Regions from separate parts of the Homo sapiens genome. Here region 2 is linked to region 1. The links come from fine-mapping of genetic effects on gene expression. Tissue or cell type: whole blood. Region 1 holds a variant in brackets; the other region holds the start of a gene. All regions are shown on one strand. Distances are between the middles of the regions.

Region 1 (2,687 bases):
TATGTGTGCATGTATATAGATATATTAATAGATATATGTGTCTATGTGTGTATATATATGGGGGGGTATGTGTGTGTCAGTTGCAGATATCATGACAATTTTCCCCTAAATACTTCAGCAACTATCTCCTAAGAATAAAGGTAATCTTCCACATCACCATAATATTTAACATTGATTTAGTAATGTCTTCTCATGCAGAGCCTAATCTAAATTTCCCTATTGTTTCAGCACCTGGTATTCTTGGTCCTGGGCCAAGACTGCATTCCTCAGCTCTTCCAATTCCTAGACTGAACAATTCCCTTAAATCTGCAATATATCTTCCTTACCCTATGCAGGGGACTGTTTCCTAGCCAAGCCTGTACATTAATATTCTGCCCCCTAACCCCCCACAAGCACTGAGGGATGGAAGGAACATGACTGACATAACAGAGAGAGGCGATTGCCAGTCTGGAAGTCCTCCTGGGGAAAGCAATGTTCTTCCTTTAACCCTGAGCAGATGAGCCAGGAATCTTCAAGCTGTAGGACATTGGTTCCAAACTTGCTCCTACATAAAAGGTCTGCTGTGCTGGAGGGACATTTGCACTTAATGCCAAGGCCACCTCCACTCTACCTACCGTGGCATGCAAGGCCCTTCATGAGCTGGCTTCTGTTTATCTCTCCAACCTTATCCCCTCCTTAAAACCTACTCTCCAGCCTCCCTTAACAAATGAAGTTCTCTTTGACCTCTAGGCTGTCGCTCATGTTTCTTCTGCCCAGATGACGATTTCTACCCTTTCACTCCCAGGATTCCCCATGATGCATTCTCTGAGCACCTCTGGCCTCCGAAGCCTAAGCTGCTTCTCCCCTGGCTCCCATCACTCATCCCTTCTCCTTTCTACGCTGCCACAATCTATTGTAATTGCCCGTTTATTTGTCTGTAGCCCAGACGGTAGAAACCATGTGGGTAGAGCTATGTCTCCTCAGTCCCTGGCACAGCACCAGCCCATAGTAAGTGTTCAAGCAGTATTTATCAAATGGACATCTACATGTTGCATGAACTCCTGTTGTTGAGGAATTGGGCCCCTCGTAGTTTATGCATTCCTTGACACCCTGTTTCATGTGAGGTGCTCAGTGGCTATGTACTACATGGTGGAATATCCACCCTCCAGGAGTTATGCTCTCAATAGGGAGGCAAGTCTAAAATGCACAAAGGGCCAAATAGCAGTACAAAAAACTGGGTAAGAGATGGCCAACACACCTGCATCCACAGGTCTGACTATGCATTGGAATCATCCAAGGGGACTTGCTGAAAATACAAATTCCTGGTCTCCCTAAGAGGTTTTCATCAAGAAGGTCCAGGGATCTCTTGATGTAAGTGACTCAGGGAATTCCGA[T/C]GCACGTGGACCAAGGACTAAACTTTAGGAACCATTGGCAATTAGGGGAAAGCTTCATCAGATGGAGTGGTCATAGGGCCCTTCCACCAGACCCTTCAGTGCCTCTGTATGAATGAGAAAAAGGCACCCCGTTGGAAGGATACCACCCATGGGCACATGGCCTGGTGTGTGGAGGCCAGGTGTGCTCTACTTGCCGTCCTCCTCAGGACGCCCTTGTAGAGGGCATGATGCTTTGATATTAATCATGGCTTTGTCCTGGATGCCCCTGAAACAGTATCTAAGCACTTTTTTCACATCCCTTCAAAGTCCTCCGTAGCTGCACATAAGGAGATAAACAATAGTCATTATAATGTATGTTATACATATAATATTCCACATTGGCTGGTCAAGTGAATCCCAATAAACATAGAAACCACACAAAACAAATGACTTAAACACTATTATTTGCCTTACGCCTCCCACTTCAAGGCAGCCAAACCCCGGGTGTGGCCCCACAGCTGAGGGAGGTTATTTCAGATGTGAGATCCTCCAGTGAGCTTTGTGAACAGCATATGTTTGCAGCACTTGAAAAGGAATGTCTGACTGTACTGATACGGACTCCTACAAAACCCGAAGAGTCAAACACTGGGTCACAGGGTAACCAACTAGCCATTTTCCAAACAGATGAATCCTGGTGGTGCAAATCTCCCTAAGTAATCCCTAGAGGTTCAAGCTCATCAACATTTATTGGGTACTATAATATACAAGGCACTCTGCTCAGTTCCAGTGGTGGGAGTGTGAAGATGAAGAAGGCATGATGCCTGCCCTCAAGGAGACAAAAATATAGTAAACAGAAACTCCATCTAAGTAAGATGATGTTGTAACACCTCTAAAAATGGTTCAGACACAGTGCTATTGGTGAACGGAAAAATGAAGATTTTATTCCACATAGAAGGACTGGCAAAGGCTTAATGGAGCAGGTGGAATGTTCCCAGAGTGTTGAAAACTAGATAGGGTTTTGACAAATAGATAGCACTGGAAAAAGATATTAAGGCTGCTGGAATCTTGGCTGTCAAACTAATTAGCTGTGTGACTATAGGAAAGTCACTTAACCTCTCTGAGTTTTAATTCTCTTATGACTAAAATTAGGAAAATGATGACACAAGGTGCTATCGTCTGAATGTTTCTGTCCCCTGATAAATTTGTATGTTGAAATCCCAATCCCCAAGGTGATAATATTAGGAGGTGGAGCTTTTGGGGAGGTGATGAGTCACTGGGGCAGAGCCCTCATGAATGGGATTAATGCCCTTACAACAGAGGCCCAAGGAAGCTTCC
Region 2 (2,687 bases), 50 kb before region 1:
TTAATGTATCTAATGCCTGTGATTTGCTTGAGGTCGGTAGAAGCTTATATAGTCACTTTCAGAGCACTCCCCTGAGAAAATGTCAAGACTTGAATTTGCTTCTCTAATGCAGAGCTTCTCAAGTAGTTTGTCTCAAGCTATTGATCGAAGCCTTCTGGGTGTCTAGCTGGGCAGCACTTAAGGTGGCTGGAGCTCCCAGGCTGGTCGCCTCCAGAATTCCAAACAACTAATTTTCTCTATCTGCCATGATGTAAAAAATGCTGTGAAACACCACAGTGGGACAGGCATGGACAGGCATGCAGGCAGTGGGGTGCATGTATGTGGTTTAATACTGAAAATAAGGATACAAAAATCCTGCCAGGTGATGCTCCTGTAATTCTCAAGGAGCGGCAGTGATTTGTTATTTCACATTTTTCCTCACTCTATCCTTGCCCCTGACACACACACTGCAAGTCACTGATTGGAGCAGGCCAGTTCCTTCAGGTGAAGGGGCCTAGAGAAATGTCGGTGAATACCCAGTGAATACCACGCTGTGAAACTCTGCATCTGAGGCACGCAGTGGGGCTTTGGTTCTCTCCTCTCACCAGGGGTTTGACCTTTCAACCACCTCAGAAAAAAGGAAAGGTGGAAGCAGGAAGGGGGACCAGCAGCTCCAGGCAAGCAATGCTAATTAGCTCCAGCGTAATGACCCAACATCAGTTCTTAGCTGAATTTTAACAGTCCATTTGAAAACATTTTCTAGATAAATGAAAATGGAAAGAGCTCTAGAAAATGTTTAAGTGTTACATACTTAAAATAGTATATTTACTTATTGAAGTTAAATGCCAAGATGTAGAACTAGTGTGTTATTTTCTTGGTACAGATTACAATGCTGTGTTTCAGTGAAGGAGCTAATTGAAATGATTAGTAGATAGATGTAATCAGAAAAATATTAAATGAAGATAGTAATTTCTAAAGCAGGAAATAAAGACAGTTACAAGTCTGTTCTTATTTTTCCAATCTGTTATATAACTCCTCCCACCCATTAACCTTAACTAAATGTATGATTCATTTGTTAAACAAATACTGAGTTCCAGCTACGTGTAAGGCATCATAGGGGCAGAAGATACAGCAGTGAACATAACAGGTAAAACCCTCCCCCTCTGCCAAGGGGCAGGACAGGGAGGAAAGGGAAGACAGAGACAGGTGGAATATGGAGTGTTCAGTGTTGGTAAGTGCTAAGGAGAAAAAATGAAACAGGAGGTAAGATGCAGAGGGTGGTGGTGAAGGCAATGGGAGGTTGCCTTGAAAGCGGAGCTCAGTGTAGTCTCCATTTGAGTTAAAGACTGGAAATGAGCAAGGAAACAGTCTAAGGAAAGAAAGACTAATAGAGCAGCCAGCAGAGAGCTCTCTGCAGAGAGAGAGGGCGGACCTGTGTGGTCAGGGAATTGCAGGAAGAAGGCCCGTGGGGTTAGAGTGATGTCAGTGGTGGGAGAGTAGTACAAGATGGCGTCAGAAAGCTCGTAGGGGTTAGGTATACAGCCTTGTAGGCCATTATGAGGAGTTTGGCTTTTACTCTAGGTGAGACGGGAACCCACTGGAGAGTTTTAAGCAAAGACATGACATGGTCTCACTTAGGATTTAACAATTCTGGCTCCTTTTCGAGCGTAGACTGGAGGGGGCCAATTAGGAGGCTGCTGCAATAATCTAGGTGAGAGACGACGGCAAGGGTGAGAGATGATAGACCAGGGTGGTAGCAGTGGAGTAATGAAAAGTATGATTCCAGAAATATCCAAGACAATTTCCTGGCAGATTTGATGTGAGGTGTGATTAAAGAAGAACCAAGAATGACTTTAGTGTTGTTGGCCTGAGCAACTGGAAGAACAGAGTTGCCATTTATTGAGATGAGAAGGCTGCCAGAAGAGTAGAGGTAAATGTGTGAGTATGTGTGTGTTGGGGGGATGGAGGGAGAGTTGCACTGAAAGCATGAGCAAAGATTTAGACAAATTAGGATTGAGATGTCCATTAGACAACTAAGAAGAGATGTCAAGCAGGTAGTTGGATCTGTGAGACTCAGGGAAAAAGTCTGACCTGGAGAATATAAATGTTACAATCATCTGTGTGTGGATAGTATTGAAAGCCACAGGGCCAAAGGAGATCATCAAGAAAGCAGATAGGAAAGAGAAGAGGTCCAATCACTGAGCCCTGGGGTAATACAATATTTAAAAGGTCAGAGAGATTATATGGCCTGTTAATTACATTATATACTTAGGAACTATCCTTCATAGTCTGTATTTGGGGTTTTTAAGAAACAAAAGGTAGAGGTGCTCCCAAGAATTAAACTGAGCCGGGCGCAGTGGCTCATGCCTGTAATCCCAGCACTTTGGGAGGCTGAGGCAGGAGGATCGCTTGAGTCCAGAAGTTCAAGACCAGCCTGGGCAATATAGGGAGACTCCGTCTCTACAAAAACTGCAAAAAAAAAAAAAAAAAGGCTGGGCGTGTGGCACGTGCCTGTGGGAGGTCGAGGTTGCACCACTGCACCACTCCAGCCTGGGCAAAAGCAAGACCGTGTCTCAAAAAAAAGAAAAAAAAAATTAAACCAAAGCCAAAAGAAGATCACTTACAAAATACCGACATCTAGGTGTGAAGCTGGCAATGTTCCCAAGGTTTTTGTAAATAAGTTGATTCCAAACTGTTCACTATTGAGA

Evidence for each region. PIP is the estimated chance that this variant, and not a neighbour inherited with it, causes the effect.
Region 2: FAM177B starts here. The variant in region 1 is fine-mapped to the expression of FAM177B in whole blood (TOPMed, PIP above 0.99).

Annotation. Positions count from the first base shown.
Region 1 is chr1:222,786,038-222,788,724 of GRCh38, forward strand. No RefSeq gene overlaps it. Among named protein-coding and RNA genes, the nearest start is that of DISP1, 28 kb to the right of the region's middle. The variant T/C (reference allele first, on the strand shown) is at 1,374.
Region 2 is chr1:222,736,113-222,738,799 of GRCh38, forward strand. It overlaps FAM177B (family with sequence similarity 177 member B), which reads left to right and starts at 1,090. Exons shown (of 6, transcript NM_001394345.1): 1 at 1,090-1,210; 2 at 1,792-1,909. RefSeq lists an enhancer at 332-873.